Regions from separate parts of the Homo sapiens genome. Here region 1 is reported to be linked to region 2. Evidence: microRNA targets listed by miRTarBase, many of them from high-throughput screens and not tested one by one. Region 2 holds a microRNA gene; the other region holds the end of a gene's coding sequence.

Region 1 (4,000 bases), not on the chromosome of region 2:
CAAGTATTAAAGTACTGTAAATGTAATAATCCTGCTATATTTGCAGGTATGGTTTAAGAGATGCTAAGCAGAAAGATTATTTTGACCCTCTAACACTAAGTACATAACAGAAAAAAAAGTGCTAGTATTTGTAAAACAATATTGTTGTAGCCCTCGTTTAATGCATGTAAAGATGGCTTTGTAAATGTATTGTTTAGGTGAATTTGCGATCATTTAGCAATTGTTAACCTTGACCAAGAAGAGAATAAAGACAGCTCGGAGCAACTTCATGTATGACAGCAATTCCTTCAAGACAACTGTATATTTTCAAACCAAATTATTTTAAAACCTTAGATCTTTCAGATTGTCTTTACAACAATCTAATCAGGAATGATGCGCATATATACAGTATCAGCAAAATAGTCTTTCAAATTCCACATTAGTGCAATACTGATAGTGCAGATGGGTGTTTAATAAAATATACATATACATATATAGTTCCCCTGTAATTCTGTTCCAAGGCTCTTGAAACTTCTGTGTATTTAGCATCTCCCTAGTTGAATATAGCTATGCTGCTAACACATTCTCCAAACCAAGCAATTTAGAATGTTAATGCCCATTTATGATGTAGATTCACATAACTCTAAAATACGATGGATTCTGATTCTTCTGACTTCTCTAGGATGACACTTGGGTAACAACTGAAGAAACTCTATAACAAACAGAATTTACGTAATAGTAACTTCATGTTTACAAATCATTCTCATCAATTTAAAATATTGCGATTGAAATCACCATTGATAGTAACATGACACACATCATTAAAACATGTTCAAGGGCATCTAATCTTGTATTTGAGGTCTTCCACAATAACAGCTAAAAATGACTAAGAGGCTAAATTTCTCAACTATCATAGTAAAATACAAATATATATATAAGAAAAGTTTGGTAAGGGCCAATTGGTAATGAAAGCGTATTGACCAGCATGGGAATAGAGAATGGCCGCTCTGGGTTGCTTTTGTTCAGAGTTAAAACGGATCTTTGTTAAATGAACTGTTAACACAATCTAAGCAAGCTGAACAGTAATGTTAAGAGTCTTTGCAAGGTCTTGCTTCAAATCTTTTGAACAAAATTTAAATATGCCACAGCAAATGCATCAATTCCATGAGATGCCCATGAGGCTATTCACTGAACTCAGGCTCAAAGCTGATCCCAGATCAATCTGATCCTTTCTCGCCCTTTCCCCCACTTCTCTATGGATTGGAACACACATAAACTGGTTACCTCGGTCAAAACAAAAAGATTTTCCTTGCGTTCCATCTTGATTCTTGTGTGTTGTGAAAGAACCATCTCAAGAAATGAACACTTTGCCATGAATATGACTAAGCATTTACAATACAGACAATATCTACTTTTCAAAGAGCCATTTTATCACTCAATTCATGTCATAGTTGCAAAAAAGAAAAACTTCAGCTGAAAAAAAAATTATCTTTGCCTTTAGCTGAAAAACAAAACAAAACAAAAAAACAGCCCAATTAGGATGTTTTAGTATCCTAAAGAAGTTTTGCAGTGCTTTAAAAAAAGGAAAATCAAACCCAAGTGCCAAGATAACACATTTCTTTGCATTTCTTAACTACATTTCTTTACAGCTGGTTCACAGGGCGGATGAGTGGGACCTCTTAGCCTCTTAGGTGCACAGTCCCTACAACTTTTATTAACACAGTGCCATCAAAGCAAGCTCCCCACACAATTCACAGGCCTCCGGAATCACTCATTCACAGATGTTTTAAAAATGATCAAACAATGTATTCCTCCCAGTTAAAGTTGTGTTGGATCCTGAGTTGCGGCTGGGATGAATCTTCAGGATTTCATTCTTCTCTCTTCTCCTCCATTCTTGATGAAGGGGAATTTGGTTATATGCACCCACATTTAACTACTGTTGCTCACTTTCTTCAAATTCAGGACCAATGACATTTCTATGTATGAATTATTTTTATTGGCATTTAGACTATGGTGCTCAAAAGCCTGCTTTTGAATAACTTCCCCCAATAATGGTGCTATTTATCTTCAACATAAACACGAGCCATTATTTTCAGTTTGTTCTGACACTGAAATAGTGATAGGAAATTGCCAACTCTAACAGTAAACTTTTGGGAATTTTTGAGCTACATATATGAATCCCTGATCTGTGGTTTTCTATATTTTCTCATAAATTCCCAAAATAAAGGTATGTGTGCTTCACAACTAGTTATATTTACAAATAGTGTCACTCAGGTCTTAATTGAATCAATCCATTAAAGCATTAGCAGATGCTTTATGGTATGTGTCATGAATACAAATGACAGCCAATTTGGCACCTTAACAGCTCACACAGGAAGAGTTTCTGTATAAAAGCTATGTGATTAATTTGATAAGGGAATACAAGTACCACTCAACATTTCCCTGTTTACAAAAAAAGCTATAAGCAGATTGGGTAAAAGAAGAACCATCCATACTCTTACCCGAAAGATTTCTTACCATTACTGGGCAAATATTCCATGGAGTCCCTACTATCAATGTTTGATGATCTCATATTAAGGACATTGTAGGAATGGAGATAGTTGCATGGATAACCCCATCGGTATATGGCTTTGCAGCATGGTTCTACAAAGCTGAGTATGCACAGAGACTGAAGCTCTGGGAATGCTGCACACAGCTAACAAAATGTTGAAACCTCACTGACAACCCCTAGCCCAGGAGGAATTGCCTCTTCTGCTCCCCCTGCTAAATGGCCCTCTCCTCCGACTCCATGCTATGAAAACACAGCACCCTTCCCTTGAACTGCTACACATCACCCACCTAGATCGAAAGTTTGGGCTCATCTCCCATTGGTGGCAAAGACCTCCATATGAGCTGCAGGCACAAAGGAGGGCAAAGAACTCGATTCAGATGAAGTCTAAGATCCAGGTTGACAAGATTTGTGAAGAATGACGGAAGAGGTGACTGCACTAGCTTGAAATCTGGCTGTACTTCTAGCTAACCGGTGCAAGGGGCCACACTTGTTTTCACTGTCAAGCATAAAATATTATCACAGGGCAGAGGTAAGAATGTCTCTGGCAAGGACTAGCAGTCTGGATACTGTATTTCTAATACATTTACTCTGACATTCTTTTGAGGAATACATGGAGAACTGACAATTGGTTATGTTAGTTTACATGTTCCCTTGTTCTTATTACATTAAACGTATCTGTAAGAAGGGTTTGCTTAGCATCCCCAGAAAAAAAAAAAAAAGTGTTCACATTCTTTAGGTCTGACCCGTGGTAAGGAGAGGGAGGATTAGAGAACATCTACTACTGACCATATGGAAGTTTTGGATGATATAAATTCAGAGATTCAGACCAGCTGAATCAAATTAAAATGTACATGTAAAAAATGTGTTAGATAATGGGAGGCAGGACAGAGAGAGAGCCAGGTGAGTGGGGAGTCACGCTGAGGCAGGACACAGAGGCAATCAGACTAGCATGTGGCGTTTCCTATGGAGGGCAAGATGGTCAGAACGGGAGAAGCTGCGGTCACAGTCCGGGCACTGGAAAGGTTTGATTCCAGTATGTTTTCGGAAATGTCTTGTTAGTTCATCAGACCGAGCAAACTTCCATGTGCACCCTTCCCATGTACATTTGTAGGGTTTTTCTCCTGCAAAAGGAAAAAGAAAAGAGCTATTTTTTTTTTCTGTAAAGGTAGTAAAGATCTTTGAGTTAATGCTTGACAAATATTATTTCCAAGATATGTTCATACATTTGTTCTTCAATAACACAGTGCATTATAAACTACTGCAAGACAAGCAAGAAGAAAATGAACTAATACCGTAATGTTTCATTGGCTCTCTGCCAAAAAAACGGGAGGAGAATTTTAAGAGTTCTTAAAACACAGAGTCACTGAAATCCATTCTGAGGGACTACCAAATAGTGAATGAACACATGGTGATCTGTATTTGCACATCTCCCAAATCTTAAACCTGCTTGGGAGCTTAATTATATGCAGT
Region 2 (4,560 bases):
TTGACTCTAAGATACCTTTTTTAAAAAAAAAAACAATGCTAAGCGAAAGATTATTCCTAAAAAGTAGAGATGTTTGGAGCTAGCATGAGACTGACACGTAGCACTCTATTTGCTTTTATTTTATGTCATTGCAAAGAAAGCATGACTGCTGAGCTCCAAAGGCCTTGGCTTTGAGAAACATGGGGTTCCAGACCTGCCTTGGCCTTGGAGGGAAAGAAAAACCATAGATGTAAAGCTCTGTGTTTCCAGGAAGCTCCAGAAGAAAGAAGGGGGGCAGGTGACACAGACTGGATGTGACAGATAATAACTCTGCGTTTTACTTTTTCCTAAAAGCACCCCCATTGAAAAGACAGCTGATGTAATTAGGAGGCAATTTGAGGGCTGCTCCGTAACACATCCTGCCCCTCCTTAGGCAGGGCGTCTGGTTTCCCAGCTGCCTGTGTCTGCCTCTCTCTATCAGCTGCATCCGCCGCCTTGGGCAGCAAGATCAGTTTAGGGTTGGATGCTGCCGGCTGGGGTAATCTGACCATCAGATTAAGTCCTCCTGAAAAGGCTCCGTCTGGCTGCCTGGGACCCCAAGCCCATCCCTGGGAGCACTTGGCAGTTGCAGGGTGCTGTCTGTCTTCCTTCATGCCTCCCCGCTTTGTGTGAGAAGAAACTCTCTTGCTGAAAAGTACAGAGGGTGGTGACGCAAAGTGTCCAAAGACGGCGAACAGCAAGATAGCTCTCAAGGAATTACAGAACTTTTAGAAACCTTAGAGGTCATCCAGTTTATTCTAGAGATGGATAAATTGAGGTCCACACAGCAGAAAAATCTTATCTAAGGTATTGAGTATTATTTTTAGGGCAAGATCTGAAACCCAGGACTTCTGACATACTGTGAAGACTCTTGATAATTTACCTACAAATCCCTCCATTTCTTTTTGTAGGAAGAAACCAAAGAGAAAGAAAATTAGATTTTAAGGCTTGGTGAGGGTGGCGGTTTGCACGAACAGGATGGATTTCCCCTGCTCTTGTACCAGGGTCCTAATCAAACTCACATTTGAAGTCCCAGAACCACAGTGTTCACAGAGCCCTGCATAGGTGTCAAAGCAGAGTGGAGTCCAGATTCTAGTGGCTGACTCTAGTGCGTGTGATGAGAGACCTTAGGAAGGAGGAGAGGCCAGACAGACCCAGAGCTGTGGGCTGGCTCTTCCTAACTGGTCCAACATGGCAGACAACCTATGCACCGTTGAGATGCTGAGACCATCTAGAGGATATGCCCAGTCCCAAAAACACATAGTGGAAGAATGTTGATACTGGTTCTCATGTCAGAGGTCAGGCAGGGAGGGTCTCAGTCACTTAGCCTTAGCTCCAGTTTCTTCAAGATGCACATCTCCAGCCTAATGCCAAGTGGGAGGAAGTCCCAAGTCAGCAGGTTCATGGAAACTGACCCTGATCTATCACAGAGAGGAATATAAAAACTGGGTACCCTCACCTGGGCCTTTGGCATCCTGACAGTGGTTATTGGTTCATCCTGTTCGCTCCCATAATTTCCAGCTAAGGAAGAGAACAAGAAATCAAGAAGGACCCCAGAATTCAGTGTCTTCCCCTCAGACTCATCACTTGGCTTCCCTTTCCTTCCTTCTCTTAGTCTCAAAGAGGCCCTTCATCAGGAGGCGCACTGGCCACCATCTCTGTGAAAGTCAGTGTTCTCAAACAACAACTATGATTGCAGGTTCCTCAGTCCAAACCCTACGGCCCCATTTGTTTTCCTGTCTTTCTCTCTGGCTAGAGAGATATATTTTCTTTTGACACCCCACTGCTCCTCTATTAAACCTCAAATGATCTGGGATGAGTGTCTATCAGCCAGAGCATTCCTGCTGACCTCAAAGGATATAAAGGAGACTCCTGAATTGTGGAATGTCAAAGGGGGCTTTTTCCTAAAGAACAGCATTGAAGGTTTGCTAGACCACTGGGAACTGTGGATTGTCTCTTGACTTAAGGGGCTAGAGGAATGACTGTGATGGAACCACTCAGCTGTTGGGGGGATTGGGCCTATGTTGCAAAGCATGCAGAAGATGCTTTTCTAAGTTTAATGTCTTGTCAGACCAACTGGTGTGACTGAATGGAGTTTAGAGGCTCAATTCAGGCATGTGATAGGATCACAGATGTCTGAGTGTTCTTTCTTTCCTTGGGAAGGAACCATGCTGTCCTGAAGCTCCCGAGTATGGGCATCCAGTGATTTCCCTCCCGTTCTTCTCCCTTCCTACTGTGTCTCCCTGGGGTGGGGCACAAGGGCAGCAGGGCTGCAATCTTCGGAAGTGTTCCAGTGGAACCCCACTCCTGATACTAATCACGCTCAGTGGGGGCCTGCTCCGGCTTCCGCTTCTCCACGCTGCTTCCTCTGAGCGCTCCTGTCCTCTCTCTGACGCTGCTTCCTGACCTTGACTCTGACCAGTCGCTGCGGGGCTTTCCTTTGTGCTTGATCTAACCATGTGGTGGAACGATGGAAACGGAACATGGTTCTGTCAAGCACCGCGGAAAGCACCGTGCTCTCCTGCAGCATGGCCCGCCACCGCCGCCACCACCGCTGGACACCTCTCCTCTGCTCTGGAGCACCGCAGCCCACCACCTGCCAGACCCACCTCTCCCAGTCTCAACTCACCAAAGGCAGGAGGGTAGGAGTCTCAAAGGATGCAGATACAGAGGGAAATGGGTCTGGAGAAGCACCCTGGGGAAAGAGATCTGTATCCACATCTCTTTCCCAAAATGGAGTCACCCTCCCCCAAATCTAGTCTGGATGTCAGACAAGGAGTAATAACTAGGTTCAAGCTCAGAAACTACTGTGTCTCTTCTTCCACTGGAAGGGAACAAGTATACCCAAGGCATACGCCCCATGGTTTCATGGGAGAGTCCCAACCCAAGGTCATTTTTCCAAGTGGCAGCTAACCCAAAGGGGAATTCCTACTGCTTGTGACCCCCGACCCCTCCCACCACCACCTTTATTGGTATTCACTTTATTTGAAATGAACGTCAGCATGAGAATGGGTGAAACTCATGTGAGTCTGAGACTTTGGGTTTAACCCAAGGTTCCTTCTGAACCTCATTCCCATACTTTATGAAAACACAGTCCCTGAACCCCATGAAACCTAAAGTCCAGTCTGTTTCCTTGACCTGCAAAGCACAGTTAACGTGGAGGTGCTGGGCTCCTCACCTGGTGCTAATTCTGTTTCAGGGGAGGGGAGTGTGTGTGGACGTGGAAACCTGCTATCTCTGATAATAAAGAGAGGGATCTTGGTACCTCTTATTTTGCTTGTTCCTTGATAAATCCTAGACCCAGTGTAACCAGAAGACTGTGTTGTTCATTCCTGTCCTGGAGTCTTTGTCCTATTCTGCAAGAGAGAGCTAAGGTGGGAACTTTAGCCTAGCTCAGAACTAGAAGCTGAGCCCTGGGCCCCCATCATGAGGTGTGACTCTTATTACCTCGTCTATCTGAGGTTACCCCTCAGAACCAGGAGCCCAACCATTGCTTAGTAGTTTTTTAACATACATTGAGTGCTTGCTATAGGCCAGGCAGTGAACTGTTTTCACATCATTACCTTGTTTAATGTTCACAAAATCTAAAGTCCCACTTTACAGATGAGGATATTGAGGCTCAGAGAGGTTAGCTAACTTACCCAGGGTCATCTGATTCCAGAATGGCTGCACTGTACTGCTGTAATACCCACCTTCCCAGCTGTGGACAACCCCATTGCCTTGAATTAGAACATTTAAAAACTGTGATTTGATAGGGACTTGAAATTTGCTTAAACTCTCCCTTTCAGACTTTCATCTGTTAGTAGAAAGAACTTGAGTAAGAGAGAAAGCATTATTCAAATGGCTGTTCCTCTCCAGCATGGACATACAAAGATCCCATTTAACACAGAGCAAATCCTCGAGCCTGGAGAAGTTCCCTTTCCCACCTTACAGAGAGGGGCATTCTGAGGCCCTCGGCACTGCCCCTAACATGGCAGGGACCAGGCCTCTGGGAGTGGGTCCATAATGGTGCCCTTCCATCAGTGCTTTACTGGCCCCGCAGCCACAGGCTGTGATGAGGCAGTGCCAGCCTCAGACCATGGGTATTTCCCTCTGTTTTCAGGCAGATGGCTGCACTCATAATAGACTCCAAAGGGGATAGCTTACTAGGACGGCTCCCTGCCCAACTGGTGACCAAACTCCTAGTAAAACAGTTGGCATCTTCCAGCCACTGGCAGCTGGTCCCCCAGCCTTGCCCATGAGTGGATGTCTGTGTGCCTGGCAGTGTTCTCCTTAGTCATTCATCACTTATGACCCTTTGCTTATTCACATCACTGTCTTTTCAAGCTGATGAGGCCTGACAGGACTTACGCTCCCCCCAATTCCTCTTTCTGCTTCTTTCCTCCTTTCTTTTATTCCACTCATCTTAGGGATATTGGGAATAGGGGAGGAGAGCTCTGGAAACATGAGTTAGCAAGTCCATGATGATCAGATAACAATGAATTTATGACTCCCAGTCAGCAAACTGGCTGCCCAAAGGATGATACAAAATGCATACCGTTG

Evidence for each region. Region 2 holds the annotated microRNA hsa-miR-218-2-3p (CAUGGUUCUGUCAAGCACCGCG, at 2,501-2,522, shown strand). A microRNA usually pairs through its seed, bases 2 to 8, with sites in the 3' UTR of a target mRNA and lowers its output. Matches are read on the target gene's strand: a 7mer-m8 pairs with bases 2 to 8, a 7mer-A1 pairs with bases 2 to 7 and ends in A, and an 8mer does both.
Region 1: miRTarBase lists KLF3 as a target of hsa-miR-218-2-3p. Seed matches in the 3' UTR shown: 7mer-m8 at 2,617-2,623 and 7mer-A1 at 48-54.

The regions. Positions count from the first base shown.
Region 1 is chr4:38,696,733-38,700,732 of GRCh38, reverse strand. KLF3 (KLF transcription factor 3) reads right to left here. Exons shown (of 6, transcript NM_016531.6): 6 at 1-3,651. The coding sequence ends at 3,470. Among named protein-coding and RNA genes, the nearest start is that of KLF3-AS1, 34 kb to the right of the region's middle.
Region 2 is chr5:168,766,130-168,770,689 of GRCh38, reverse strand. MIR218-2 (microRNA 218-2) reads left to right here and starts at 2,435; the gene lies at 2,435-2,544. All of the region lies in intron 14 of SLIT3 (slit guidance ligand 3), which reads left to right.